4 separate regions of the Homo sapiens genome follow, and all the other regions are linked to region 1. The links come from fine-mapping of genetic effects on gene expression. A gene starts in region 1. Each other region holds a variant in brackets. All regions are shown on one strand. Distances are between the middles of the regions.

Evidence for each region.
Region 2: its variant is fine-mapped to the expression of OSBPL8 in blood mononuclear cells (TOPMed, PIP 0.92).
Region 3: its variant is fine-mapped to the expression of OSBPL8 in whole blood (INTERVAL, PIP above 0.99).
Region 4: its variant is fine-mapped to the expression of OSBPL8 in blood mononuclear cells (TOPMed, PIP above 0.99).

What each region holds. Positions count from the first base shown.
Region 1 is chr12:76,555,803-76,563,913 of GRCh38, forward strand. It overlaps OSBPL8 (oxysterol binding protein like 8), which reads right to left and starts at 3,969. Exons shown (of 24, transcript NM_020841.5): 1 at 3,595-3,969. It overlaps LOC105369850 (a long non-coding RNA gene), which reads left to right and starts at 4,100. Exons shown (of 4, transcript NR_188081.1): 1 at 4,100-4,431; 2 at 6,493-6,556. RefSeq lists an enhancer at 2,890-3,199 and a silencer at 3,610-3,799.
Region 2 is chr12:76,292,729-76,300,839 of GRCh38, forward strand. LNCOG (lncRNA osteogenesis associated) reads left to right here. Exons shown (of 4, transcript NR_146531.1): 3 at 1,085-1,277. Among named protein-coding and RNA genes, the nearest start is that of LNCOG, 37 kb to the left of the region's middle. The variant C/T (reference allele first, on the strand shown) is at 4,208.
Region 3 is chr12:76,585,617-76,593,727 of GRCh38, forward strand. All of the region lies in intron 3 of LOC105369850 (a long non-coding RNA gene), which reads left to right. Among named protein-coding and RNA genes, the nearest start is that of OSBPL8, 30 kb to the left of the region's middle. RefSeq lists a silencer at 3,539-3,739. The variant G/A (reference allele first, on the strand shown) is at 3,318.
Region 4 is chr12:76,370,812-76,378,922 of GRCh38, forward strand. It overlaps OSBPL8 (oxysterol binding protein like 8), which reads right to left. Exons shown (of 24, transcript NM_020841.5): 16 at 7,641-7,739; 17 at 4,462-4,559; 18 at 2,533-2,622; 19 at 637-773. Among named protein-coding and RNA genes, the nearest start is that of BBS10, 26 kb to the left of the region's middle. The variant G/A (reference allele first, on the strand shown) is at 3,987.

The sequences.
Region 1 (8,111 bases):
TGTTGCAAAGCAAGTTAATCTTTTTATTTAGGGAGAGGTGAAAATAGAGATGGGAGAATAAAAATTCTTCATAATGTTACAAAAAAAGACTTACTGTGCTTTATCTGACATAATTTATTCAGTCTGACTTAAATGCTTTGCTGCACGTTGTCTACCCCCTTAGACACTGCTTATCTTCAGACACACAGCCCACACCAAAACCTAACTCAAGAATCACCTCCTCCAAGAAAGTTTCCCAGATTAAATGACCTGTTCCCCTTCTCCCAAGCTAACATCCTTCCTTTATCATTTCGCTGCTTGCATTTAGTTTGGACTACATTATCAGATACTCCTTTTGTTCTCCAGTCATATATCTGGAAGTAGACTTTTTTCATTCATTAACTATTGAACATTTGGAGATTCAATGGTGAGCAAAACAGACAAGGTCCTTGCTATCATGGAGAATTTACATTATCTGGATCTTCGACAAAGGTAAAAATAACAGGGTATAAGAATATGATGCTCTAGGACTAGGATTTCTTCCCTATAAGGTCTCCGAAAATAGCTCTCTCCCTTGCAAGCTTGATAACACTTTTCAGGAAGAAAAATTCCTTCTATCACGCCTTCCACATGAGAATTTTATGACTTTGTGAGGATATGTGAGGGATGGGGACCAAGGTGGGAAGAAAGATCTAAAATCTCTCAGGGGTTTCCCACATACTGCCATGAAATATGCACACAACATGAGTCTAGACATCTCTTCCTGTGTCTCATCACAAGGAAGCTATACTTTGGCCACAACTGCTCCAGTCAAGCACTTCTACTAATCTCCTTGTACCCAGCCACCTTCACTAAAAATTGTATATTTCTCAGAGGCTTTTTGTTTTTTTGGTGTTTTTTGAGACTGAGTCTTGCTCTATCGCCCAGGCTGGAGTGCAATGGCATGATCTTGGCTCGTTGCAATCTCTGTCTCCTGGGTTCATGCGATTCTCCTGCCTCAGCCTCCCAAGTAGCTGGGATTACAGGCACACACTGCCACGCCCAGCTAATTTTTTTGTATTTTTAGTAGAGACGGGGTTTCACCATGTTGGCCAGGCGGGTCTTGAACTTCTGACCTCATGATCTGCCCACCTCAGCCTCCCAAAGTGCTAGCATTACAGGCGTGAGCCACCGGGCCTGGCCTCTCAAAGGCTTTTTTATTCAAGTTGTGTTTCTGTCTTATTTGCAGGTCATTATTTGTAAGATTAAGGCAGGACCTATGTCCTCTTTGAATTGCCTGATGCTCCAAGAACATTGCTATAAATGTTTTTAACTTTCAATATAATACAAACATTACAACATGACATTTCAGGCATTGTTATTAGGATAATATTAGGATAAAAGTTTTCCAAATTAATATTAGAAAACTAGATCTATGTACTGTATCAATTCTTTGTCTTTAATGCCTTAATTCAAGTAATCTACTTTTGAAGGATTATTTACAAACCAAAGCCAAGTTGAAATGTACTAACACTGGTTAAAATTCTGCAATTCATACTTTTAAACAAAAGATCCGCCAGACACAGTGGCTCATGACTGTAATCCCAGCACTTTGGGAGGCTGAGGCGGGCGGATCTTGAGGCCAGGAGTTGGAGACCAGCCTGGCCAACATGGTGAAACCCCATCTCTAATAAAAATACAAAAATTAGCCTGGCATGGTGGCACGCACCTGTAATCCCAGCTACTCAGGAGGCTGAAGCATAAGAATCTCTTGAACCCAGGTGGCAGAAGCTGCAGTGAGCCAAGTTGCACCACTGCACTCCAGCCTGGGATACAGAGTGAGACAGTCTTAAAAAAAAAAAAAAAAAAAATCCTTTTGTAATGCATATTTTACAAATTCATAATTTCATCATTTTTCTTAAAGCAAACTAAAACATAAATTCATTATACACAATTGTAAATTTATCCCCAAAGTGTTTTCTAAGGCTTCCAATTTTTAAATGAACCAAGGAACTGAATATTGACAAATGTATAAGTACCCTGAATGTGTTATAAAAAACATATTTGACTGTCTTTAAAATGCAGTAACATTCTAAGGAAAATACAGTAGCATCTTTCCACAGATCAGAGATTCAATAACTATTATGATTCAATCAAAGAGAAATAAACCATGGCCATTTTTAATTAAACAGGCATTTCTAAGCACCTGTGTACACGGTATTGCTGTTCAAACGGTTGACATGGAATGTGACCGCAATAACTTGATGTCCATAATTAAAGACCCAAAAGGTAGCTTAAGTTTCATCTATTTCCTTTCTCAGCCCTTTGAGCAGGTATATTATAGTCACTCCATACACGGTTAATATTAAAAAAAAATAAAAGTAACAAACATTTGAAATTAGTTGTACTTTTATAGAGAACAGTTTTAAATTGCATGGCCTTACTTTTCCTATTCCAACCTATTTTATAAAACTAGCATGATCTTAATAATTTCACTGCAAAACAGGTTCTAGCAAGCATAGAAACTGATCATAGCCTCTCAGCAAAATCAAGTTTAGATGAAACTCTAGGAAATTAGCAAAATTTAACAATCAATTCACCCACGATTCTCCACAATTCTTGCTCTCTCTAGATACGAAGGGAGGCAAAAACTGTTTTAAAGGATTATTTCAAAAGCAGCACTAATTTTGGGAAAAACTTAACTGCCATGCAGGAGACACTGTATTACTACTCAGACGTCATTTAAGTCTTCTAGCAGCAGAAAGGCAAAAACATCATTAAATTTTTTATTTAATGCATATATACTTACATTATCAGTTAAAGTTTACCCATCTGTTTACGTTGTCCAAGTTACCTATTATTTCAGAAAGCATTTAAATAAAATGAAATTAGGTTACGTTCTGCAACGCAGATGTGTCTCATAAAGAAGAGTGTTAAATGACTTTTGTGAATGGAAAATCTGCATATACTGTTGCTTCGCCTCAGCCAGTCTTGAGTGGGTGGTTCAATGAACCTAAAGCATGCTGCCTGTGAAGCTCCTTGGAACCTGATTCCACTCTTGAGAGAGGGCTTAGAAACAAACATTAAATTTAAAAGCACAGCAAAGGCTTGGCTTTCCTCCTACGTTACAAGAAGGCCGGGAGAACTGAGGCTTAGAGGAACAACACCGTGTCGCTTGGCTCTGCAAAGGCGGGTGCGGTCTGCGGTGCGCGGCACAGCCTTCTCTGGGGCTGTCACAGGAAAGAAGGAGCCTCGCCTTAACCGCACCGAGCGACAAAGCGCCAGCTCTCCTGGGCGCGGGGGCTCCCAACGAGGCCCATGCCATCAACCTATCAAACTTCAGGAGGGACAGACACCCGGGGCGGTCGAAATGCTCCAACAGCCTCCCACCCCCGTTCCCCTGCCGCGGCTTTTGTAAGGCTGCAGATGCACCTACTGTGGGCCCCTAAACACTCCACCCTGCCAGCCTTTCCAATCCCCCTACTCCAAAAGGGAACAAAGGAGCCAAAGAACTCCTCGGCGGGGGTGGCCAGGAGTCCCCGACAGCCCGAGCTCAGAACGTGGCAATAAGGGTGCGCAGTCGCCCTGAGGGGTGCGAACCCAGCACCCCAACCTCAGGAATGGAGCAACACTCACCCGTGCGGAGCTCCCAGGGAGGCGGGACGCAAGGAGCCGGTTCCTCCGAGGTCGCCGCGGCGCCGGGGTCCGAGGCCCCGTAAGCGTCTAGTCAGACCCCAACTTCTCTCGGCCGCTGTCGTCGGCGGCAGCTGGGGCGCGAGCCTGGACGAAGGGCGCTGCCCAGCGGCCGCGGAGGCACTGCCGGCTCAGCCCCCGAGCGGGGCGGGAACTTTCGGCCCCGAGGTCCACCAGCCCGGGCGGACCCCCACCTTCCCTCAGTCGGCTTGCTACCGGCAGCGGCTACTGCGGCGTCCAAAGCTAACACTACAGCCGCCGCCTGGCCAGGAGCGCGTCGCGGCCTAATGTTGTCATCCGCCGCGTCGCCGCCTTTCTGGGCACCCAGAACCGCGAAGATCCTTCACATTCTAGTGCCCTCCCCCTGCCCCGCCCGCCCCCCGGATCACGGGCTTCGGCCACGCCCTCTTCCCGTCACGTGACGGTGCGCGGAGGCGGTGGTGGAGTTGCTTCCCCTGCTAGGCGGGCTCGAACCGGGCGGGAGTCACTGTCCACCTTGCTTCGCCAGGGTGTTATCGCCAGCCAGTCCCCTTCCGCATGCCCAAGGGCAGCCTCAGGAAGCGAGCCCACCACCGTCGGCCCAGCGCCTGTTGATCGGCCAGGCCTTCTGGGCCGGTCATACTGGGCCCTTCCTAACCTGAGGAGATTGCACAGTAGGGCTCCCTGGTCTGGTCAGGGCTCAGTTAGGACCCCTCTCCAGCCTTAGGCTTGGTGAAAGCTTTAGCGAAACAGAAAAAAGAACGCATCGTGGTGTAGAGTGTATGGCCTAAGAAGCATTCGGTAACTAAACTACTTGTTCCTATTTCTAGTGGCACATTAACCGTGGCATTTAATTTACTGCTTTCCTCATTAGAGGTTTTTTTTTTTTTGAGGAAACGGTGTATTTCAATCATGCTGGGATGAAAACAGCCTAGCAAACTTATTTTTGTTCCTTGTTATGTTCAGGATCCTGCTGCCAGTTTTACAGTCATTAAGTTTTACAGTGTGTTAGGTTGGTGACAGTTTAAACGGGTACGCAGGAATTTGACAGTTTGTTCCATTTTTTAAAATAAAGCCTAATTCTTGATTTTTTTTCTAATGCCTTAATTTTTTTTTCCTAATTCCTTAACTCTAGGACTTAACCTTTTGCTTTCTTTTTTAGCCATGATCCGAAGAACCCTCTAGCCGCCTAATGAAATCCTAACTATACAGAAGTAAGGGAGGTAGAATAAAGATCATACTCAAACCCTGATCACAATGAAGGCAAATGAGAAAGCTTTCTGTAATAATTAAATTGGGGTCATAACTCATTTTCCCTTGTAGCCCAGAACTAAGGATTTTTTTCTTAAGCTATTCTCATCTCATTACATTTTCTTAACAAGAAATCAGAAGGCATTCTGATAAGCTGGATACATTGAAATGAATAAGCAATAGAGTTTGGCCTATATAATTATTATTAATATATTTCATAGCAGCTCTAAAAAAATCATAGACTTACATTGTTTTATGTTACCCAAGAAAGAAAACAAAGGCTGCCAATGAAACTATGCCATACCGCTGATATGTAAGGCACCTTTAAGCCACATCTTTTTCCTTTTTTTTTTGAGACAGGGTCTCACTCTGTCTCCCAGACTGGAGTGCAGAGGCGCAATCTCGGCCCACTGCAATTTCCGCCTCCCGGTTCAAGCGATTCTCCTCCCTTAGCCTCCCAAGGAGCTGAGATTACAGGCATGCGCCACCATGCCCAGCTAATTTTTGTATTTTTAGTAGAGAGGAGGTTTCACCATTTTGGCAAGGCTGGTGTTGAACTCGTGACCTCAAATGATTCACCCGCCTCGACCTCCCAAAATGCTGGGATTACAGGCATGAGCCACCGCGCCCGGCCTGAGACACATCTTGAATTCAGAGATGTAAACATGTCAGAAACAACGAGTCTTAGAATCTCTGAGATATTGTCATGAACTGGGAAACAACGAGTCTTAGAATCTCTGAGATATTGTCATGAACTGGGAAACAACGAGTCTTAGAATCTCTGAGATATTGTCATGAACTGGTGTTCCAAAGAGGAAAAGATTCTACCAGGTTCTGTTCTGAAGCCTGAGAGACTGTAGTACAAATAAATGTGAAGGAAGTTTATTATTCTGTGACATTATTTCAGCAAAGCTAGTAACTTTGGAGTTTGTTAACAGATTAACTTGTCTCCTGTTTTCTAGAGGCATGTTTTTCAACCTGCAACTCAAAAATCAATTTCATTTTTATATGAAATAGGCTAGGATGTAATACAATATAAAATACCAGAGTGCATAATGTCTAGTAAGGGCAAAAATTGCTTCCTGAAACTTTTTGTTTCAAATATGGTGGAAGGTGAGAGTATGTCCTATGTTGTGATTTAAACAATTTCTTACTGTGAGTTGCAATCAAATAGATTTGGAAAAGAATGTTCCTAGAGCATAGATAATATGCAAAATACACCATCTGGACCCCGTTTTTCTGGTACTTTTATTTTACTTTGGAAACTGAGACTAAAGATTAGAAAAAGGTGGCAAATTGCCTTGCCTAATTCTCTTCTGCCTCAGCCCCAATTTCATACATTGGCTTTTGAAAATTTGATCATTTGTTGGAAAAAGCAATGTACTGGAAGCAAGGAAGCCTAGGTTACAGACTTAGCTAATGAGATGTATGACTAGATAAATTACTCCCTGCATTTCAAGTTCCAATCAAGTAGGACCACATGCTGTTTGAGAAATGATACTAAACCACCTTTTTTTTTTCCCGGTGGATGGCAATCACATTGGAAACAAACAGACACGGTATACTCAGGATTATGCAAATTACTGACAGCCTACGTTTAACTTCTTTCAGCTCCACTCAAAAAAAAGAAAGTCCTAATGCAAGTAATTGAAAGTGAAGATATTGCAAAACAAATGTAAGTATATCTTTCACAATCTTCTCTACTTTGATTATCACTAGTATAATAGTTACTTGTCATGAATAACTAATGATTTTGACATACTTAACAACTGATTGCAACACAAAAATATATTAATCCACTACAGTTGAAAAATCATTTTTTCAGATCCTTTCAAATCTGATATTGTGATTCCAGGAATGATAATTCAATCTAGCATTTTCAATGTAATGACAACATAAACAGAAACTAATATGTGATCCTGCACTGTAACTGAAAAATATTCAGTAACTCCCAGAGATGCCCTGCAAGTTTGCTACTCTTACAATGATTTTAAGAATGACATTTTGAAATAAAGCTTTTTTATTATAACGATCCGATTTTAACTCCAATGAGAATTCATCTCTTTTGCCTACTGCTTTATTAATTATACATTTCTAAGAATGGGAAGTTCTTTCCAAATTAGTTTAAGCACTGACAGGCTTGACAGCCTTTCCCACAGTATATTTCAACCCTGACCTAGAATGACAGAGATGTTGCTTGAGGTTGTTTGCTTTTTTCCATTTGGCTTATCCCATTAGACAATTATGTTGCTGACAATTACTAATCAGGATTCTAGACTAAAATCCTCATTTTCTGGAAGAGAATTTAGATTAAGAGCAACCTCAGCCATAAATAAGGTATTCAACACAGCTTTGAAGACTTGTATTCTTGTTGGTCATGTGATTTGCTTTAGCCAGTGCTTTGTGAGCAGATGTTAAATGCTAAATCAAAGCAGAGGCTTTAAATTTGATTGCAAAATTCAGGTCAATCTCTTACTCTTGTGCCACCTGCCATGAGAAAGGTATGTTCCAGATAAGATCTCAGAATAAGAAAATAGATGGAGCAGACCTGAAACTCTCACCCTGTACAGAACTGAAGCAACTGACTTGCAGCTCCTGACATACGGCTACTGATGTGAAACAAGAGTAAAACAAAAATATTTGTTGTTGTGAATCACAAATATTTTTGAGATTGTTTGTTGCGTAGCATAATCTTGCAAATCATCTAAAGTGAATTTGAGCCAACAAACTCATGAGTCAAAGGCTAAATGTACTGTGGAACAATAATATTTGTCTATTTAATAAAATAAATAACAGACATCTACAAACTAGTCAACCAGCTATTTGGTAAATATCCACCTAAAATTTATGTTAAGAAGCAGTCTTTATAAAATCTGTAAATTTGCATGCAAAATGTTTGCATGTAAGATATTTACATACTGATTTTAAATATTTCTGTTTAGTATTATTTGTCTTAAATATCCCTTGAGGAAAATTTGGATAGTAAAGTATAAAGAGAATATAGGATTCTGTTTCTAGAAATATCAAGGACTAGTTCACACTTGTCACACTGAAAACAAAATCCCTGGAAAAAACATTTTTTAAATCTTATTAAATATATTGATTAACTGACAATAGGGTAAGAAATTATTAAGTTAAAAAACTAAATGAAGGCAGGAACCTAGAGTTTAGCAGAGTCAGCCAACTTTTATCTCAAGGGCATGTGCTAAACCCAGTTACTAGGAGCATTG
Region 2 (8,111 bases), 260 kb before region 1:
CCTGTGTTCTCAAGAACTTAAAACCTCTTCAACTCTTGCCTGACCTAAAATCTAAGTGTCTTATTTTCTTCTGCAACACCGCTTGGCCCCAATACAAACTTGACAATGGTTCTAAATGGCCAGAAAATGACCCTTTTGATTTCTCCATCCTACGAGACCTAGATAATTTTTGCCAAAAAATGGGCAAATGGTCTGAGGTGCCTGACATCCAGGCATTCTTTTACACATTGGTCCCTCCCTAGTCTCTGCTCCCAATGCAACTCGTCCCAAATCTTTCTTCTTTCTCTCCTGTCAGTTCCTTCAGTCTCCACCCCAAGCTCTGAGTCATGTGAATCCTCGTTTTCTACAGACCCATCTGACCTTTCCCCTCCTCCCCAGGCTGCTCCTTGCCAGGCCAATCCAGGTCCCAACTCTTCTTCAGCCTCCACTCCCCCACCCTATAACCCTTCTATTACCTTCCTTCATCACGCCTGGTCTGGCTTACAGCTTCATTCGGCGACTAGCCCTCCCCCCCTGCCCAACAATTTCCTCTTAGAGAGGTGGCTGGAGCTGAAGGCATAGCCAAAGTTAATGCTCCTTTTTCTTTATCCAACCTCTCCCAAATCAGTTAGCGTTTAGGCTCTTTTTCACCAAGTATGAAAACCCAGTGCATGGCCCGTTTGGCAAGAACCCTTAGACACTTTACTGCCCTAGACCCAGAGGGGCCAGAAGGCTGTCTTATTCTCAATATGCATTTTATTACCCAATCCCCTCCTGACAGTAGAAAAAGCTCCAAAAATTAGATTCTAGCCCTCAAAACCCACAACAGGACCTAATTAACCTCGCCTTCAAGGTGTACAATAATAGAGTAGAGGCAGCCAAGTAGCAACTATTTCTGAGTTGCAATTACTTGCCTCTACTGTGAGAGAAACTCTAGCCACATCTCCATCACACAAGAACTTCAAAACGTCTGAACTGCAGTGGCCAGGTGTTCCTCCAGGACCTCCTCCCCAAGGAGCTTGCTTCAAGTGCCAGAAATCTGGCCACTGGGCCAAGGAATGCCCGCAGCCTCGGATTCCTCCTAAGCCATGTCCCATCTGTGCAGGACCCCACTGGAAAATGGACTGTCCAACTCACCCGGCAGCCACTCCCAGAGCCCCTGGAACTCTGGCCCAAGGCTCTCTGACTGACTCCTTCCCAGATCTTCTCGGCTCAGCAGCTGAAGACTGACACTGCTTGATTGCCTGGGAAGCCTATAGGACCATCACAGACACTTTGGATAACTCTTACAGTGAAGGGTAAGTCCGTCCCCTTCATAATCAATACAGAGGCTACCAACTCCACATTACCCTCTTTTCAAGGGCGTGTTTCCCCTGCCTCCATAACTGTTGTGGGTATTGATGGCCAGGCTTCTAAGTTCTCTTAAAACTCCCCAACTCTGGTGCCAACTTGGACAACATTCTTTTATGCTCTCCTTTTTAGTTATCCCCACCTGCCCAGCTCCCTTATTAGGTTGAGACATTTTAACTAAATTGTCTGCTTTCCTGACTATTCCTGGGCTACAGCCACACCTCATTGCCGCCTTTCCCCCCAATTCAAAGCCTCCTTCACATCCTGTCCTTGCATCTCCCCACCTTAATCCACAAGTATAGGACACCTCTACTCCCTCCTTGGCGATGGATGATGCACCCCTTACCATCACATTAAAACCTTATCACCCTTACCCCGCTCAACGCCAATATCCCATCCCACAGCACGCTTTAAAAGGATTAAAGCCTGTTATCACTCGCCTGTTACCACATGGACTTTTAAAGCCTATAAACTCTCCTTACAATTCTCCCATTTTACCTGTTCAAAAACCAGACAAGTCTTACAGGTTAGTTCAGGATCTGTGCCTTATCAACCAAATTGTTTTGCCTATCCACCCTGTGGTGCCCAACCTGTACACTCTTTTGTCTTCAATACCTTCCTCCACAACTCGCTATTCCATTCTTGATGTTAAAGATGCTTTTTTTCACTATTCCCCTACACCCCTTGTCCTAGCCTCTCTTTGCTTTTACCTGGACTGACTCTGACATCCATCAGTCCCAGCAGCTTACCTGGGCTATGCTGCTGCAAGCCTTCAGGGACAGCCCTCGTTACTTCAGCCAAGCTCTTTCTCATGATTTACTTTCTTTCCACCCCTCCACTTCTCACCTTATTCAATATATTGATGACCTTCTACTTTGTAGCGCCTCCTTTGAATCTTCTCAACAAGACACCCTCCTGCTCCTTCAACATTTATTCTCCAAAGGATATCAGGTATCCTCCAAAGCTCAAATCACTTCTCCATCTGTTACCTACCTCAGCATAATTCTTCATAAAAACACACGTGCTCTCCCTGCCAATCATGTCTGACTGATCTCTCAAACCCCAATCCCTTCTACAAAATAACAACTCCTTTCCTTCCTAAGCATGGTTGGATACTTTCGCCTTTGGATACCTGGTTTTGCCTCCTAATGAAACCATTATATAAACTCACAAAAGGAAACCTAGTTGACCCCATAGATCCTAAATCCTTTCCCCACTCCTCTTTCCATTCCTTGAAGACAGCTTTAGAGACTGCTCCCACACTAGCTCTCCCTGCATCCCAAACCTTTTCATTACACACAGCCAAAGTGCAGGGCTGTGCAGTCGGAATTGTTACACAAGGACCAGGACCGTGCCCTGTAGCCTTTTTGTCCAAACAACTTGACTTTACCGTTTAGGCTGGCCATCATGTCTCTGTGCAGTGGCTGCCACCACCCTAATACTTTTAGAGGCCCTAAAAATCACAAACTATGCTCAACTCACTCTCTACAGTTCTCACAACTTCCAAAATCTATTTTCTTCCTCCCACCTGATGCATATACTTTCTGCTCCCCAGCTCCTTCAGCTGTACTCACTCTTTGTTGAGTCTCCCACAATTACCATTGTTCCTGGCCGGACTTCAATCCAGCCTCCCACATTATTCCTGATACCACACCTGACCCCCATGACTGTATCTCTGATCCACCTGACATTCACTCCATTTCCCATATTTCCTCCTTTTCTGTTCCTCATCCTGATCACACTTGGTTTATTGATGGCAGTTCCAGCAGGCCTAATAGCCACTCACCAACAAACGCAGGCTATGCTATAGTGTCTTCCACATCTATCATTGAGGCTACTGCTCTGCTCCCTCCACTACTTCTCAGTAAGCTGAACTCATTGCCTTAACTCAGGCCCTCACTCTTGCAAAGGGACTACACGTCAATATTTATACTTACTCTAAATATGTCTTCCATATCCTACACCACCATGCTGTTATATGGGCTGAAAGAGGTTTCCTCACTACTCAAGGGTCCTCCATCATTAATGCCTCCTTAATAAAAACTCTTCTCAAGGCTGCTTTACTTCCAAAGGAAGCTGGATTCATTCACTGCAAAGGCCATCAAAAGGCATCAGATCCCATTGCTCAAGGTAACACTTATGCTGATAAGGTAGCTAAAGAAGCAGCTAGCATTCCAACTTCTGTCCCTCACGGCCAGTTTTTCTCCCTCTCATCAGTCACTCCCACCTACTCCCCCACTGAAACTTCCACCTATCAATCTCTTCCCACACAAGGCAAATGGTTCTTGGACTAAGAAAAATATCTCCTTCCAGCCTCACAGGCCCATTCTATTCTATCATCATTTCATAATCTCTTCCATGTAGGTTACAAGTTGCTAGCCCGCCTCTTAGAACCTCTCATTTCCTTTCCATCTTGGAAATCTGTCCTTAAGGAAATCACTTCTCAGTGTTCCATCTGCTATTCTACTACTCCTCAGGGATTGTTCAGGCCCCCTCCCTTCCCTACACATCAAGCTCAGGGATTTGCCCCGGCCCAGGACTGGCAAATTGAATTTTCTCACATGCCTCAAGTCAGGAAACTAAAATAACCTCTTGGTCTGGGTAGACACTTTCACTGGATGGGTAGAGGCCTTTCCTACAGGGTCTGAAAAGGCCACCGCGGTCATAATTTCTTGGTTTGGCCTTCCCACCTCAATACAGTCCGATAACGGACCGGCCTTTACTAGTCATATCACCCAAGCAGTTTCTCAGGCTCTTGGTATTCAGTGAAACCTTCATACCACTTACCGTCCTCAATCTTCACGAAAGGTAGAACAGGCTAATGGTCTTTTAAAAACACACCTCACCAAGCTCAGCCTCCAACTTAACAAAAAGGACT[C/T]TGTCAAGAATAGAGCCCAAAAACTCACCAACCAAACAAGTAATTACGCTGAACCCCCTTGGACACTCTCTAATTGGATGTCCTGGGTCCTCCCAATTCTTAGTCCTTTAATACCTGTTTTTCCCCTTCTCTTATTCAGACCTTGCGTCTTCTGTTCAGTTTCTCAATTCATACAAAACTGCATCCAGGCCATCACGAATCTTTGTATATGACAAATGCTCTTTTTAACAACCCCACAATATCGCCCCTTACCACAAAATCTTCCTTCAGCTTAATCTCTCCTACTGTAGGTTCCCACGCCGCACCTAATCCCACTCGAAGCAGCCCTAAGAAACATCACCCATTATCTCTCCATACCACCCCCAAAAAATTTTCACCGCCCCAACATTTCAACACTATTTTGTTTTATTTTTCTTATTAATATAAGAAGACGGGAATGTCAGGCCTCTGAGCCCAAGCCTGCACATATACATCCAGATGGCCTGAAGCAAGTGAAGAATCACAAAAGAAGTGAAAATGGCTGGTTCCTGCCTTAACTGATGACATTCCACCATTGTGATTTGTTCCTGCCCCACCTTAACTGAGTGATTAACCTTGTGAAATTCCTTTCCTGGCTCAGAAGCTCCCCCACTGAGCACCTTGTGACCCCCGCCCCTGCCCATAAGAGAGCAAACCCCTTTGACTGTAATTGTCCACTACCCACCCAAATCCTGTAAAACAGCCCCACCCCTATCTCCCTTCCCTGACTCTCTTTTTGGACTCAGCCCACCTGCAACCAGGTGAAATAAACAGCCTTGTTGCTCACACAAAGCCTGTTTGGTCGTCTCTTCACGCGGACGTGCGTGACAATGGGCTCAAGTCGTCCTCCCACCTCAGCCTCCTGAATAGCTAGGGACTACAGGCATGCACCACCATGCCTGGCTAATTTTTGTATTTTTTGTAGAGAAAGAGTTTCACCATGTTTCCCAGGCTGGTCTTGAACTCTTGAGCTCAAGCGATCTGTCTGCCTTGGTCTCCCAAAGTGCTGGGATTACAGGGATGAGCCACCATGCCCGGCCTTGAATAGCCACTTTGGATCCCCATTTGAAACTCCCTTCTGTTGGAATTCCAAAAACTTTTCTGCACAGTCCTCTACCCAAATGCCCTTGTGTAATATACACCTCTGTGTTACAGTCTTGTTGCAGACAAAGTGCAAATACTAGGGTTCAGGTGAGGCCATTCCAAATTATTTTCAAGGAATGAGGTTTGCTTCTAAAGATGCCTGTTTGAGATGTTTCAGAGCCCACCTTCCTGAAGATGTATATTGGTATCTGATACAATGAACTTTGATGTATACTCATTGATCCAGTACTTAAAGATGGACTATTATTGAATGTTCTTGACAAGAGAAATGACATTATAGAAGTCTAGAGTTCACCTAGTATGCCAACATGACTATAGCAGTTGTTAGAATTTTGACATACAGCTGACCCTTGAACAAGGCAGGGGTTAGGGGTGCTGAGCCTCATGTAGTCAAAAATATGCATGTAACTTTTGATTATCCCAAATCTTAATAGCCTGCTGTTAACCAAAAGTCTCACTGATAACACAGTAATATGTGGTAATAATAATTTTTTTTTTTTTGAGATGGAGTCTCGCTCTGTCACCCAGGCTGGTGTGCAGTGGTGCAATCTGCGCTCACTGCAACCTCCACCTCCCAGATAAAAGTGACTCTCGTCCTTCAGCCTCCCAAGTAGCTGGGATTATAGGCACTCGCCACCACGTCTAGCTAATCTTTGTATTTTTAGTAGAGATGGGGTTTCACCATGTTGGCCAGGCTGGTTTTGAACCCCTGACCTCCGGTGATCCGCCTGCCTTGGCCTTTCAAAATGTTGGGATTACAGGTGTGAGCCAACATGCCAGGCCTGTGTTAATAATAATTAAGACATTTTATATGTTATATAGATCATATACTGTATTATTACAATAAAGTAAACTAGAGAAAATAAAGTATTATTAAGAAAATTATGGGCCAGACACAGTGGCTCACATACCAGTTGTTGCCATACCAGTTGTTGGTTTTTTTGAATGTCATTCCTGTAGACGTGTGCTTTGGGAAAATTTTGCTGGCAACAGTGTCTAAGGGGTTAGAGAAGGGAAGACCCCAGAGCCAAATAATTCAGCAACAAGTCTGTTGTCTTAATCAGGAGGTCAGGTGGTAAGCGCTTGGTCTAATGTGACAGAGGAGAGAACTAATCTGAGCTGCCTGTCATCTTAAGAGGAACAAAGCCTCCTCCAGCGTGTTTAGGACTCAACCTCTGGAAAGTATGGACAGGTAGAAACCTAGTCCCACTCCCAGGGTAACAAGGCCAGAACAGGACCACCAGCAACATCAGCTTATTACTAAGTTAGAAAATTTATAAATTCAGAAAATTTGTAAATTGTCTAGTTCAGTTCAGTCTGGGATGAATTTGAGCCAACAAGTGAGCCCTTACAGGGCAAAAGGGATACGAGATCACAGAATGAAGAGGGTGCAAGGAAAGGGACCAGCAGGGGAAAGTGTGGGGGATCAAACCAGAAAAGGACAGTCATCAGGCAAATTATGATAGAATGTCATCAAGAAGAATGAAGACTGGAAATAATTATACATTTTTTGATTGGGGGTGACTAGAAGTGTCACTGTAGGGATTAAGATGGGAATGGATGAAGAAGAAAATGCATAGTATGCACTGTGGACTACTGACTCCAAATGACCAGGACTGGGAAACATTAACCCATGAGCTGGCTCAAAAACAGCAGAAACCTATGCTGTGGTTTGGTGGCCGTGGTTCTGTGCAAATGAAAACTCAAGAGAACCCACACTGGGCTGTGACCAGACCTTCTGTTTTATACCTATGTTCTTGATGGTCATCTTTTATAATTATTGACAGCTGGAGGGCAGGGAGAGCATTCTTGCTTTTGTGTCAGAAAACATTCAACATGGAATAGGAGCAGCACTTCATCTGGACGTTAAACCTCTGGTTAAGGATTCCATGCAATAACTGGGCTCAACTCTGAATATATCCTGGATATATTAAATATATGTTAAAATATATTAAAAATATATATTTAATATATATCAGGATCTCAGCCTCCTCCTGAGTGAGGCATCGGAAATGTCTGATCCAGTAAGCAGGCATTGTGTCACACCAGCTGTCACACCGGGACTTCCCCAGCAGGGACAGAATTCCTAAGGGATTATCTCAGAATCACAGAAGTTTCAATTATGTAGGACCTGAAGTTACTCTCCCTCGTTCCTGGAAAATTTTAGGTCCAGGTTTACTAGTTCTATCTCTACAGCTCTAGTCATGATTCTTGGGGGGTTTAGTGTCCATGAAGATGATTCTTCTAGTTCCCTGGCCTTTAAAATTTCCTCAACTTCTTCACCTTTAATGATTTTGTCCTCCACTTCTTAGCCACCCGCTTACTCCCTTAGTCATATACACGTCTAGACTTCATGAATGGCAAGAATTGTATCTACTCCATAGTCTTTAAAATTTTTTTAAGAGACAACAGGGTCTCGTTCTGTCATCCAGGCTGGAGTGCTGTGGTACAGTCATAGCTCATTGCAGCCTTGAACTCCTGGGCGAAAGCAATATTCCTGCCTTAGCCTCCCGAGTAGCTAGGACTACAGGCATGAGCCACTGTGTCCAGCTAATTTTTTATTTTTTATACAGATTTCATTATGTTGCTCACGTTTACTCCATAGTCTTACACTCAAACATCTAAATCTTAAACTGTCTCATATTTTTGAGTCACTTCCTCTAGTACCCCAATTTTAATAATTCTTCAACCCAATGAGGATCTCTAAACTACTGATCCTATTACCTATTTACTCCCCCAAATGCCCTATGTCCTCACTTCCATAGCCAGGACTAGAGGGAGA
Region 3 (8,111 bases), 30 kb after region 1:
AGGTGACACACGTAAAATCTACAGTTTTCACTGGCCAGACCAAGTCACATGGCTCCATTCAGTTGTAGGGTCGCTGAGGAATACAGTCAATCCACTGAGTGGCCAGAAAGGAAAGAGAAGTAAATATTGATTAACAAAGCAATATGTAGCATAAATAGCTATTATGACTGTTGTTTTTATATAGGTGAAGAAATGTAGGCTTAGAAAAATTAAGTTATTCATCCAAAGGTACATATAAGGTAAGTAGGGGAGCCTCAGCATATGGACCTATCTGACTCCAGAGCCTGTGCCTAACTTCTATCTTCCATTACCTCCCAGCACCGCACTGGAAGCCTGGCAGAACCTAGCCACCACTAGGGATATTTAATTCAATTCATATACATTCAGTTCAATTCAAATCAGCATATATTTGCTAAATGCTTTCTCTTTGCCAGGCATTGCAGCTGCATCTGGAGGAGGGTTGAGCTATTTCACCATATAGATCTCCTACGACTTTGAGACTGTGATGTAAAGAAATAGGCAACTGTGATGGTTATTTTATTTGACAACTTGGCTGGGCTGTGGTACCCAGATATTTGGTTAAACGTTATTCTGGATGTTTTGGTGAAGGTGTTTTTGGATGAGATTAACATTTTAACCAGTGGATTTTAAGTAAAGCAGATTACTTTCCATAATATGGACGGGCCTCATCAATCGGTTGAAGGCCTTCATAAATCAAAGACTGACCTCCCCAGAGAAGGAAGGAATTCTGCCAGCAGGTTGCCTTTGGACTCAAGCAGAAACTGAGTCCCCACAATCATGTGTGCCAATTCCTTAAAATAAACATCTATATCTATAATATCTATATGTATACACATTCTGTTGGTTTGGTTTCTCTGGACAACCCTAACTAATATAACAAGCTTAAAAATTAGTTCTATAAAACAGGGCTAAGAAATGATTCTTTATTATACTTTAAGAACAAGATCCTCTGCAATCCCTATTTACTTTTATCTTTGAATGTTAAGTAAAAATAGCAGAATTCTAAAATAACCTACAGAAATAAGTCAAGATTCATTATATTTTCTATAATACAAGAAGTTTTACAAAGCTATTCATCATAAAATACATAAATTTTTGCAAGGAACCTTGTGGACTGAAAAAACAGCCAAAACAAATCTGCCACATACAGGCCCCAGAATGTGGTTTTATAATCTGTCCACTTAGGAAACTGTTCCAATTATCTTCACAAATTCAGTATTGTGAGAATGTGTCTAGGTGTTAATTATCATTTTAGAAGGAAGTCAGCTCTCCTACACAGCTAAGAATGCTAACAGTCTCCAATTTTAACTTGTTCTCTTATACAAGATGCTGTTTTGGGAAGTATTTAGTTGCCCCCTGCTGGCCATACAATTGCAGGATTCATTTTTTAAAAAGTTCTCAGTAGATTGCAGATGATAATGATAAACTTCTGAAGAGATGCATTCAACTTTTTCATCAGATGAATTCACAATAGACTTCCAATGCTCAATTGAGATACGTAAGTTAATAAAAAAAATTTTTTTCCCCACCACCTGGTATAGGGTGAAATGTTCCAGCAGGAAGACTTTAAGCTAGATCAGTGGGAGAACAGGATGAGATGTAGGAGGAGTGACTGAGGGGCTTCACAGGCTCCCTTTCTTCTTTAACTTTTGTTTTAGGTTGAGGAGTACATGTGCACGTTTGTTATATAGGTAAACTCATGTCATGGGGGTTTGTTTTACAGATTATTTCGTTACCCTGGTACTAAGCCTAGTACCCAGAAGTTATTTTTTCTGCTCCTCTCTCTTCTCTCACCCTCCACCCTCAAGTAGGCCCCAGTGTCTGTTTTTCCCCTGTTTGTGTCCATGAGTTCTCATCATTTAGCTCTCACTTATAAGTGAGAACATGCAGTATTTGGTTTTCTGTTCCTGTGTTAGTTTGGTAAGGCTAATGGCCTCCAGCTCAATCCATGTTCCCACAAAAGACATGATCTCATTCTTTTTTATGGCTGCATAGTATTCCATGGTGTCTATGTACCACATTTTCTTTATTCAGTCTACCATTGATGGGCATTTAGACTGATTCCATGTCTTTGCTATTGTGAATAGTGCTGCCCAAAATTCCTAAACACAATTTTCTTTCTATAATACTCATGTCATATTTTATGTCTCTTCATATCCTTTTTAAAACCATATGGAAATAATTTACCAAATTGAGAGGAAAAAAACACTTGTTCAAGAAGCTTAAAAACTATATTTTTATCCTGTCTCTGCTACTAACTCTCAGGCTAATCTTGAGCAAGACTCTTTAACTTTTGGCAGTGATAAATATGTTTACAAATTTTGATTTTCATTCCCGAAAGTTTCTTCATGCTATTTTGTAATTTCTTCTTCCTGCCACTCTTGGGACTTTCCCATCCTCAAGTTACCACTGATCCACTCTCTGTCACTGCAGATTAATTTGCATTTTCTTGATAAGAAAATTATTTTATTTTATTTATTTATTTTTGTTTTGAAACAGAGTTTCGCTCTTTTTGTCCAGGCTGGAGTGCAATGGCGTGATCTCAGCTCACTGCAACCTCTGCCTCCCAGATTCAAGTGACTCTCCTGCCTCAGCCTCCCAAGTAGCTGGGATTACAGGCACGTGCCAACATGCCTGGCTAATTTTGTATTTTTAGTAGAGATGGGGTTTCATCATGTTGGCCAGGCTGGTCTCAAACTCCTGACCTCAGGTGATCTGCTAGCCTCGGCCTCCCAAAGTGCTGCGATTACAGGCATGAGCCACCATGCCTGGCCGAAGAAAATAATTTTTAAGCTTACTAGCTAAGACACTTTATAAAATGAGATATGGAAAAAATGTAAATGCTTTATAAATATTTTTAAAAATTGAGTTTCCCTATCTTGAAACCTGAGGTGCAGTGTGATGCAGTGGTTAAAAGCTTAACCTTGGGGCCAGGCACGGTGGCTCACACCTGTAATCCCAGCACTTTGGGAGACTGAGGCAGATGGATCACCTGAGTTCAGGAGTTCGAGACCAGCCTGGCCAACATGGTGAGACCCCATCTCTACTAAAAATTTAAAAATTAGCCAGGCATGGGGGTGCATGCCTGCAATCTCAACTACTTGGGAGGCTGAGGCAGAATAATTGCTTGAACCTGGGAGACAGAGGTTGCAGTAAGCTTAGATAGCACCACTGGAAAAAAAAAAAAAAAGCAAAAAGCTTAAACTTTTAAGCCAGCAAATGCGGGCCTAGGTCTTGGGTCTTGGCTCTGTTATTTACTAGCTGTATGATGTTGGGCAAGTTACTCAACACCCTGA[G/A]GTTAACAGTTTCCCCATGCTTAGAGAAACAGATAATAATAGCATCTATCCTCATAAAGATGTTGTGCAATTGCATACAAAACACTTAGCTCAGTGCTGGGCCTGTACATAAAAAACCTCAGGGTTGACTACCAATGGTAGTCATCTATCTTTAGACATTTCAAAGAGCATCACCTTAATTCTAAGAAAAGGAAATGAGAAATGAGAACCCTGGCCATGCAGCCAGTGCAATCCTAAGGCAATCATTTTAGAAATGTTTTGTGAGGATTATCATAGTTCACTGTGTCAGACATGGTATCCAGCTGACTCTGACTCAAGCCCTTTTCTTAAGCACCCCATTGGTTTTCTTTCCTCATAACTCTTTCTCCAAGTGTCATGGTATCCCTTTCTTTGTAATTCCATTCCTCCCCCTCAAACATATGACCTGACAGTCATCTCATTTCACCTTTGTGATTTGACATATAACTTGGCCAGAGCAGAGTGATAGTCATCACTTGAGATGGCAGGCATGGTGGAAATAGAGATAATTGAAGAAACAAGGCTTATTTGTGAAAAATGTTCTTTAATAGTTTTATCCCTTGTATTCAAGTACTTCTGTTGCTCTTTTTTGAGCTCTGCCAGGTTTACACTTATTAAATTTCTCTCCCTACAATGGAAACTACTTGAACCCCACTTGCCAGCCTAGCCCAATTTAGTATCTTGGGCCAATTCTAATTTTATGAAAGAGAGAGTTAAGATGCTGTATCTTGAGATTTGCATAGAGAAAGCACCTTTAGCATGCTTTCTTCCATGAACTTTTAGCACTGCCTCATTATAGTGTAGAGAAATATATGGGTAGGGGGTAATTAATTTCTGAGGAGGAGAACCTCCTGCCTACCATCCCTCCTAACTTGTAGCATACCATTTATACAAGTTTATTCTCTTCTGCTATCTTAGCCTGGCTTCTTCCCTGAAATCGGAGTCTGAGACAATAACTTCTGTGCGGATAGTTGATTTTGGGAAGAGATCCCAGTGAATAGGAGTGAGGGGCTAGGAAAATTAAGACATGAAAGGAAGGAAAGCTAACTCAAGAATACATTAATCAATCTGAACATTGTTGTAGGTAACTCAGGCTCATTTCTCTGGATCTTTGAATAGCTACCTAGAATTGTCTGCCTTCCCCCAATGTGGCAGACATATCCTAAGGTAACCCCCAATGATCTCTGCCTTCTGGTATTAATGACCTTCTTTATGCCCCTCACCGTAAGACTGGGTAGAACTTGTGAACTGCTTCCAGCCAGAAGAATAAGGCAAAGGTGATAGGATGTTACTCCCATGATGTAATGTAATACATGCATTACAATATATGACAAATGTGATGGGATATCACTCCCATGATTATGTTATATTATGTAAGAATCTGTCTTGATAGCCGACTCACTCTCTCACTTTCCTGCTGGTCTTGAAGAAACAAGTTGTCATGTTATGAACTGCCTATCGGAGAGGACCATGTGGCAAAGAACTCAGAGGTGGCTTGTAGAAGCTGAGAGCCAACAGAAACAAAACAAAACAAAATCTTGAAGCTCTCAGTCCTGTGACTGTAAGGAAATGAATTCTCCCAACAACTTGAGAGAGTTTGGAAGAAGATTCTTCTTTCTTCAGGCTTTCAGATGGGAACATGGTCCAACCAACACCTTCACTGTAGCCTGGAGAGACCCCAAAGTAGAAAACCCAACTAAGGTGTATCTGGACTCCTGACCTACAGAAAGAGAGATAGTAAATGTGTGTTATTTTAATGTGTTCAACTTGTGTTAATTTGTTACATCGAATTGGAAAACTAATAGAGATTTTGGTGCCTAGAGGTAGAATGCTACTGTAATAAATATGTAAAAATATGTCTGTGGCTTTGAAACTGATCAGTGGACAGAGACTAGAAGAATGCTTGAAAAGTATGATAGACAAATCCCAAATCACTGCGAACAAACTCTCAGTAGAAATGTGGATATTGAAGACTGCTGTTGAGGACTCAGAAGGAAGTAAGGAACATGCTATAGGAAACTGGAAGAAGGGAGATCCTTGTTATGTACTGGCGTAAAGCTTAGTGAAATTATTTCTTGCAATTACGTTGAAAGCAGAACTTGTAAATGGATGAATTTGGTTATATAGTTAAGGAGATTTCCAAGCAAAGTGTTGAAGGGGACAACTGGTTTCTTCTTGCTACTTACAGGAAAATTCAAGAAAAGAGACAAATTGAGAGAAGAACTATTAAGCAAAAAGGAATCAGGACTTGATAATTTAAAAAATCCTCATCTTCCCCAGATGGCAAAAAATATTAACAGTTGGAGATGGCTTTTGGGCACTGTCAGAAAAGCCTACTCTAGAGAAAATGCACTTGAAGTTACTCTATAATCTTTTTTAAAGCCCCCAAAAGATCAAAGGTCAGAGTACTCAGGGGTATTTCAAGATACGGCCCTTAGATTTGAAAAGATCTAAGGGTATGCCTCAGATCCTCTCAATCACACTATTGAGCCTCTAGGAAGCTTAAAGGAGATGGAATTATTTTTGAAACAATCTGTAGATGTGGCCTTTGTCTGATAAGAGTGAATGCCACTGAAATACAGAAAGAACCACAACATTCTTGAGAAAATTATTTCTGCAGAAACAGTGCCAACTTGGAATAAGACAGACAGAAAGACTAGAAAATGAAAAGAGGCTGTCAGACCTCCAAAATTTTACTGGCAGAAAGCAGGCTGATAAAACTACTCATCTGCAAACACATGCTACCTTCCATGAAAAAGGAAGAATGACTCAGATGGTGGAACCAAGAACCCAGAAAGCAGAGCCAAGAGCCATGAAGAATCATTCCCAAGCCTAGAAACTTAATTAAGGAACTTCCAATAAATCCAGTTGTATTTCAAAACTGCTATAGACTAGTGACTCCTTTTTACTACCCATTTCCCCTATTTTTAAACTGGAATGTCTATAGCTATTATCCTGTGTCTGTCCCACCATTGTATGTTGGGTGTGTTGGAGGCAGATAACTCATTTCCTTGGTTTCAGAGGTCCATAGTTAGAGAATAATTGTGTCCAGGAGCTTTACTTAACAGGTTATACGTAGGAGGCTCATCTGCACCTGGACTTGATTCACATGATGAAATTTTAGAATTTGAGCTGATGCTATAATGAATGAAACTCTTGGGAACTGATATGGTTTGTCTCTGTGTCCCCACCCAAATCTCATCTTGAATTGTACTCCCACAATTCCCATGGGTTGTGGGAGGGGCCCTGGTGGGAGATAATTTGAATTATGGGGGAGGTTCCCCCATACTGTTCTCATGGTAGCAAATAAGTCTCACGATATCTGATGGTTTTATCAGGGGTTTTATCAGGGGTTTCCACTTCTGCATCTTCTTCATTTTCTCTTGCCGCCGCCATGTAAGAAGTACCTTTCACCTCTCAGCATGATTCTGAGGCCTCCCCAGCCATGTAAGTCCAATTAAACCTCTTTTTCTTCCCAGTCTCAGGTATGTCTTTATCAGCAGTGTGAAAACGGACTAATACAGGAACCTTGGAAGGGGAGAAACCATATATTTCATATGGGAGGGCCTGAGGAAAGACTGGCAGACAGAACCTAGGCTGATTCTCCAATGACCCCCACTTTCTGATATCAATGCCCCTGTTAATTACATCCCATGAATATGGGAGGAATCTGTGAAGCATCTAACTTATAGAATATGGCAAAGGTGACAGAATGGCATTCCTATGATAACATTATGTTATGTAAGACTTCATATTGCTAGTAGACTCTTCTGCTGGCCATGAAGAAGCAAACTGCTATGTTGCTGCCTATGGAGTAGACCACATGGCAGGCAACTTGAATGGACTCTAGGAGCTAATGGCATCCTCCAGCTGACAGCCAACCAGCACACTGAAGCTTTCAGTCCTATATCCTCAATGAAATAAATTCGTTCGGCAAACCATATGAGCTTGGGAGCAGATGAGCTTCCCAATGAGAACACAGCCCACCTGATGCATTGACTCTAGCCTGGAGAGACCTGGAAGCAGAAAATCCAAATAAGCTGTGTCTGTACTCTTGACCACAGAAACTGGGATATAATACATGTTATTGTTTTAGGCTGCTAGATTTGGTAACTTGTTATCCAGCAATAGATTACAAGTGCAGTCAAAGATTGTCCCAGAGAGTGTTAACTTCTTTACTCTTCCAGGTTGTACATGCCTAAGCGCAGAGTGGGTTCTCATTGGCATCCATGCCATATCATCAGAGCAGCACAGGTTTTGAAATGATAAATATGTGGTACAGTTGCACAAAACTGGTTGCCATAGCAATAGTTGGTATAAAAGGTAGGCTGAAAGGATGTGAAAAAGATTATTCTAGTTTGTCTCATCCTGGCTACCATTTCAGGGAGTCTGTGTTGCTTGACTGGGTGGGGGCAACCAGATCATCATCTCTGAAGGGTCTGAACTCTAATTCTTGCTCTTCAGTGAGTCTTAATTATTACAATTACCCATTTATACTTATCACCAGACATGGAGCACGAAGAAATAACTCAGTGAATCCTATGTGTTCCATGCATCGGACTTCCTGTCTCCATTGGGTAGCAGCAACTCTATTTCATATGGGTAATCAAGGTCAGTTATCACCACCAAGATAGTAAGTGTTTTCATTGATGGTCCACTGACACAAGTGATCTAAAATGATCATGTGATAGTTATAGTTTCCAGTTCAATGGAGACTTCATGTGTGCCCTCATAGAAGTCCCCTTCATACCAAACAAGTGCTTCTAATCCTGAAAA
Region 4 (8,111 bases), 180 kb before region 1:
AAAGTTGCATAATAAGTACTAAGTGCCTAGCAAAATATCTCTTATACATAAGTCTCTTTCTCTTAACACAAAGATATAACAACAATAAAATAGGGAATGTGTATACAATATTTCTGATTCAAAAATATAAGCCATCTAGCAAGAAGTTCATGACTTAAGAACAGAAATGATAGCCTTAGTTATTACCCAACTAATAAATCCTATAGAAGCCAGTCCATCCAGTAACTTTACTTTTGTATCAGAGAATGGAACAGAAGTAGATTCTGCACCACTCCCTTTACCTAGAGTTCTAATGCTTAAATCAGGTTAGAAAACTGTTGCCAGGTAGAAACTAAGAGTCATTAATTAGTCCTGTAATCTTATTTAAACAAAAACGTTCTTTCTTTCTTTTTTTTTAAGGTGCTGGAACAATTGAGAAAGAAAAAAATGAGTAGTTTTGAGCTACAGAAAAGCAAGACGATTTATATTATATTTGACATTCATATACACAAAAACAGAATACTGTCACTTCCACAAATGATAAACTATTTTGCTGAATTAAGATATGACAGAAGGTGACAAAATGACCATATCATTAAGGAATTGAAAAACTACTCTCTGATCCTCATGAAGTTAGCTGTAAAACAGTATACTTACTTCTCTGATTCAAAATCTCCCTGTTCTTCAAATTTTACAGTGTGCCTTATTAATCTCCATTGCTTAATGTCAGGTGTTGGATTCCAGAAAACCTCTGAATTATCAGTCTTTTTATCAGTAATAAAAACTTCACTATCCTATATTTAAAAAAATTCAAAATTAATGTAAAGAATTATACTTAGAAGGCAATTATATAGTATAGTAATATGACGGTGATAATTTCTTCTGGTTAATCCTCCAGTTAAAAGCATTTTTAAAACAAATATAACTAGCACTTTTCCAAAAACTCCAAGTTTCTTATCATTTTTATAAAAACATTAAGATTGACTACGTAATACTAGTTAATTAAAAAGAATTTGGTTGAATATCCAGTTTGTGAAATTTCATAAGTTTTACTTAATAAATTTCAAACATTACATGCAAAGCCTCAATAACCATCTCCAAACTGTCCAAGTAGAGCATAGTATTTGTTGCAGCTACAATGAGATGCTGTTGACTATCCATGGATTCAATATACTCAAACATACACACACACACATCCCTCTGAAAGAGCCTTTACTAGCATTAAAAATTTGAGGTCTATCTCTATCGAATAATCTTTCTATCTAAGACATGGACGGTCTTGCTCTCTTGTGTAGGCTGGAGTGCAGCGGTGCTATCTACCTTATCTATCTAATCTATTTTACCTATCTAATTTATCTACCTGTTTAACCATCCTTCTCCTTCTCTCTCTCTCTGTCATCTCTCACTCTCATCTCTATCTTATCTATCTGTCTGAGACAGGGTCTTGCTTTCTCACCCAGGCTGGAGGGCAGTAGCACAATCATGGCTCACTGCAGCTTCCACCTCCCAGGCTCAAGCAATCTTCCTGCCTTAGCTTCCTGAGTAGCTGGGACAGGCATGTGCCATCATGCCCATCTAATTTTTTTATTTTTATGTTTAGTAGAGAAGAGGTCTTGTTATGTCACCCAGGCTGATCTCAAACTCCTGAGCTTCCCAAAGTGCTGGAATTATAGGTGTGAGCCACCCCACCCAGACAGAAATTTCATTTTTTAAAAATGACTGCTGCTTTATCTTTTTTCCAGAAGACTCTCAGATTTAAGGCAATTAAAAAAAATTTTCAGAGTGTATGTGGCCACTTAACAAAGTCCCTAACTTCACTTTCTCATATTTCTCAACATTTTCTGCTTACTGCATGCAGAAAGGAGCATATACTCAGTGCTCATAGTATGGTATATCCATGCAGTACCATGATTCTTTTTATTCATTTAAGCGTCTCTTAACAAAATTACATAAATATGAATTTAGGTTAGCAGAGAAGTAAATAAAAGCCATTGCTCTCACACACCACTATATCCTTTCCATGTTCCACTGAAAGGAATATAACTCTAATTGGAACTATGCCTCTTTCTTCTATGTGAGTAGAGTGCTGTGCATAAAAGCACAGTCCTGGGGCCAGGGTTCCTGGGCTTTAATTCTTGTTCCACTACCTACTTTGAGCAAATTATGTGAACTCTCTGTGCCTCAGTGTCCTCTTCTGTAAAATGGGGACAATAATAAACAATAATAAAATGGGCATGGCACCTATATACTCACCTCATAGCGTTATATGTTATAAATATTAAATCAGTTAATATGAGTAACATTCTTAAATAATGCAGTAAGTCATATATAAGTGTTAGCTATTTCTACTGATTTTAAGTTTTGGAAATAAAATATTACACAAAATTAACTACTGTTGATAACAGAACACCACCAAAATATCTGCTATTAAGATGAAGCTTATGTTAAATAGTGATGTTTTCAGCAACGGAATAAGTTTTAAATTTTAAATGTGATTTTTTTTTTCCCACAGAATAAAATTCTTTTTGTAAAGCTCATATACAAAATACTTACCCAATGACCTTCCAAAGTAGCTAGGACTTCTTTTCCCAGTTTAAGTTTCCCTGATATTTGATTAACACAGTCACTACTCCCTAGGAATGGCTTTTAAACGAGAAAATGTTAAACATTTTACTTTTCACTTATATTTACATATAATGTAAAACCAAAACAAAAAACCCAACAAAAATTGCTTGTATAGTTACAGTACTATTGAATGCACAAGCAGTAAAAAAATACTGACTCAAATTTTAGTTAGAAATGTTTAATAAGAAATCTGAATTGCTGCTATGAAAAAAATAGGATAAAACAAGCAGACTATATTAAATCAAAATAAACATATTAAGAAAGATCACCCTGATATAACTGACTCATGTTCCATGTATGCTCAAATCCTGTGTCCTCCCCTGTCAAGACTGTGCCCTATCAATGTGACGTTATCTTAAGCAATAACAACTCAATAAACCTAATGGAATTAACGATCCATTGAAATAAATAACACCCCTTCCTTAAAAAACAAACAAACAAAAGTAAAATATATAGCCAAAAAAAGCCTCCAAAAAATAAAATTAGAAGGAATACACTGAGTTACTATAATGCCTTACTAACATCTCTCCTTAGAGACAAAATTTTGATGCTCCAATGTCATACTTAAAGGCATCATATATACTTAAGAACTCATTCATCATGATCTTCAAACATTATCATCACCATACAAGGAAAATTTTGCCAAGGTGAAAGAAAAATAAAATAAAAGACATTGCATCAAATAATACTTAAGAGGTCTTTTTTATCAGAGCAAAATTGCTTATCAGCTGGATATCAACATAGCAGCAATTTAGTAATAAATATTACTAGTTTACAGAAATATTTTTATCTGAATATACTATTGTTCAAGAACAATTAATTCACATTAAGTTCTCAAATTTCCCTTTCATTTTGAGGCAGACAAAAATTTCCAAAGATGGCCTTGACAATACGTACCCTCTCCCCTTCAGCCCACATACTCTTCCTCAAGGAGACCTTGCCACTCTCCCAATGAGAAGTGGGGTCTATATTTCTTCTCCTTGAATTTGGGTGGTCTTACAATTCTCCAAATAATAGAAGATGGTGGAAGTGATATAATTTGGCTTCTCAGGCTAGGTCATGGAAAGGAAATGCAGTTTCTGTCTTGCTCACTGGGGCACTTGCACTTTGAAACCCTCAACTGCCAAGTAAGAAGTCTACTTTGAGGCTGTCATGCTGTCAGGAAATCAAGTCACATGGAAAGGCCATGTATACAGGTGCTCAGATTAGCAGTTCTAGTCCTTCGGTCACCCTAGACCAGGTATCAGATATGTAAGTGATAAGCCTTCAGGTGATTACAGTCCCTAACTATTGAGTCACCCATGGCCTACAAAGTCTTTCTGAGACCCCAGACATTATGAAGCAGAGATAAGCTATCCCCAGTATACCCTGTCCAAATTTTT[G/A]ACTCACAGAACTCATGAGGAACAGCACATAGTTATTAAGTCTGTGAGTTTTAGAGTAACTTATTACACAGAAATAGTGACTAATACAACTGTGCCTTGGTTTACACAGCTAGACTGCAAGATGACACATATCTTCTGGTATTTGGTAAAAACAATCCTTTAATTTACTAAGAAATTTCTATCCAATCACTTCTTAAATCTCATCTTCTATATAATACCCACAGTTTTATTAATTAAGATGAAAAACAAAAAATGTCTTTTGTGTTAATTTGAATTTTCCAAGGCTGCTATCTTAGGCTACCCGAAGATACTCACCCAGCCTTGCCCTTATTCCTTAGATGCACTTATCCTTGACATGACATAAATTGTGTTCTTACATTTAGTCCTTAATTAGGAAATACATGGTGCCCTTTATTCAATATTTATTGTATGGCTCTCCTTTAGCTAGGTGATACCTACTGTATTGTCTACTAACCTTTAGTTTAAATTCAAGTATTGCACTGTATCCAGTTTTTTGACATGTAATATTGACTGTTCCACCAAGCTCCAGTGTCATTGTACCATAAAGAATTCCTAAAGGAAAAAGATTTGACAAAAAATTGAAAAGAGTATAGTATAGTATATGGCTCACGATAAACAGTTTAGTAATCTAATCTTTTAGGAGAAACATAATTCAAAATCACTCTGTCCCACTCAAATGAAAAACTATAATATAGACATACAGTTGGTTCTGTAGGATATAAATAGATAACACCTGATTCACATTATGTGCAGATTCCCTATCTGTAAATTCACCTACTCAGTAAAATATCAATACCCACAGTACTTCTGTAGTCATTTGGAGACATGTGCAGAGTAGCGAAAAATTTGAGTCACCCAATGCACACATTCTGAGCTGAGGCTGAGCAAGGCAAACACTCTTGGTTCAGCTCCCACATTGTTTTAAAAAAAAAAAAAAAGTGTCCTTTTTGCAGTGTATTTAGTATCATGTTTTCACATTTTGTGCTTTTCACTGGTGGTTTTGCTGTTTAAAATGGACCCACATGTAGTGTTGCAGTGCTGTCTAGTGTTCCTAAGTGCAAGAAAGCTATACTGTATTTTACAGGGAAAATGTGTGTTAAAAGCTACGTTTAGGCTTTAGTTCTGTTGGCTGTTAGTTCAATGTTAATGAATCAATAATATGTAATTAATGTTATAATTACATCAGGTTTCTTTAAATAGAAGCATATATAAAACAAGGTTATGTACTGATTAACTGGCTGATGAAAATGTTGGCACAAGAGGCTCACAGGAATCCAATCTCATACTCCCCCAGGAGCAATGGCTCAGTATTTGCTAACTCAGTGGTGACTTTATGTAACATAACTACTGCAAATAACAAGAATCAAATGCATAAGCAAAGCAAACAAAAAACTACAAAATAAGTTCTGTGGTTAAAAGCTGGGGAAACTCTGGGTTTAACAAAGCTAAACAGGTTGTGTGTGTATCTGCTGTTGGTCTAAGATGCTAAGGCAGCCTTTAACATGCAATGTACAATATTATCTTTTGAGAGGGGAACAGACTATGCAATGTTTCTCAAATTTATTTGGCTATGGAACTCTTATTTTACAAAACAATTTGTGAGACTAGTGACTTGGGGGAACACACCTTAGAAAACATACAGGGTGAAACATCTTATAAAAATCATTTCATATGCTCATTCGCAAGTGGTTATAACTTCTTTTCTTTTTCCATGCATTGCTATAAAAAATTTTCCCTATTGTAAGCTAAGTAGCGCATGGATATCTACATGGAATATAGTTTTATTTTTTCTAAATGATAGAAAATTTAAAAATATGTGTTCTTATCAATTCATAATTAAAGATATTTCACTCCATGCTTACTTCAAGAACTATACTTGAAGCTCTAAGAATAATCTAGACTAAGGCCATAAGTTAGGCTCTTTTGTACATGCTGGGTTGGCCTTCGATAAGATTCAGCCCTCCGAGATTTCTCAACTGTGTGTTCTGGGATACATGTGCAGAACGTGAAGCTTTGTTATATAGGTATACACGTGCCATGGTGGTTTGCTGCACCTATCAACCCATCATCTACATTAGGTATTTCTCCTAATGCTATCCCTCCCCTTGCCCCCCACCTCCCAATAGGTCTCAGTGTATGATGTTCCCCTCCCTGTGCCCATGTGTTCTCATTGTTCAACTCCCACTTATGAGTGAGATCATGTGGTGTTTGGTTTTCTGTTTCTGTGTTAGTTTGCTGAGAATGATGGTTTCCAGCTTCATCCATGTCCCTGCAAAGGACATAAACTCATCCTTTTTTATGGCTGCATAGTGTTCCATGGTGTGTATGTGCCACATTTTCTTTATCCAGTTTATCACTGATGGGCATTTGGGTTGGTCCCAAGTCTTTGCTATTGTGAATAGTGCTGCAATAAACATACGTGTACATGTGTCTTTATAGCAGAATAATGTATAACCCTTTGGGTATATACCCAGTAATGTGATTGCTGGGTCAAATGGTATTTCTAGTTCTAGATCCTTGAGGGATAGCCACACCGTCTTCCACAATAGCTGAACTAATTTACACTCCCACCAACAGTGTAAAATTGTTCCTATTTCTGCACATCCTCTCCAGCATCTGTTATTTCCTGACTTTTTAATGATCACCATTCTAACTGGCATGAGATGCTATCTCATTGTGGTTTGATTTGCATTTCTCTAATGATCAGTGATAATGAGCTTTTTTTCATGTTGGTCACATAAATGTCTTCTTTTGAAAAGTGTCTGTTCGTATCCTTTGCCCACTTTTCATATTGAATAATTTATATGTTTTCATGAATCAGTTCCCAAAATAGAGGATAATTACCAAAAAAGGTATTTTTAAGATTTTAAGAAACCGGTTGGAAGGGAGGATACACATCATGACCACACTAAACTGATGCAAAATAGTTGAAAGTTCAGAGTGCAGAGGTAAACCACCTGGGTTCAGATCCTGACTTGCCACATTTTAGCTGTATGATCTCAGGCATATTAACCTCTCTGTGCTTCATTTTTCCTCTTCTAAAAAAGGGAATAATAATATTTCTATTTTATAGGAGCTGCTGAAATGATTAAATAAATGCATTGAACAGTTGGGTGCCTAGCATGTTGTAATGTTATAGATGACAATTATTATGTAATACCCTTATCTGTATTTTAAATAATGGGGCAAAAAGCATAATACATTAAGAAATTGCCAAATGAGGGTGAGAAAAATCTTTAAAAAACTTGGTACATTAAAAAATAGTAAATTAAAATTTTAAAAAAGCATGGTGGTGCAAAAAGATGAAAATCATCTTTACAGATTCTGAAATAATAGACGGTTTTGTCAAATTTGAAAATTTGCACATCAGGCAAGTGCAAAGAAATTCCATTATGATAAATCAGTCTCTTCTGACTAAAGTACACATCACAAAGAGTCCATTACAGGTGAATTAATTCACCGCAGAAATATTCAGCAAATGATAGCAATAATCTTAAATATCTGTAATCCAAGGATGCTTTCAAACAAAATGTAAGTCTGACTCCATCAATCACAAAGCATAACAAATCACAGCTACATACATTTACTTAAAAGGAAAGCTTAATATCTAATTCAAGTATAGAAAATATTTACCTTTACAATGAGCGTATGGCATTGTCATTACATAATCTTCACCTCTATTCAAGAAAGTTAACCGTGCTTCTCCCTCTAATATTGCAGATAATGAGTTTCCTGAAATAAAATGTTGTTTATTAAATTTCACAAAACTTATTCAACCAATTCAAAACAAACAAAATATATTTAGAACACCTACCAGACATCTACAGTAGAAAGTCTTAAAAATGTCTCAATCTCAATGTGCCCAAACATGTATTCATTACCTTATATCCAAAACATATTTCATCCATATTCTCATTTTTACATAATGACTACTTTTAAAAGATACAGTTATGTGCTTTTTTTTTTGAGATGGAGTCTCTGTCACTCTGTTGCCCAGGCTGGAGTGCAGTGGAGTGATCTCGACTCACTGTAATCTCCACCTCCAGGGTTCAGCAATTCTCCTGTCTCAGCCTCCTGAGTGGCTGGGATTACAGGCGTGCACCA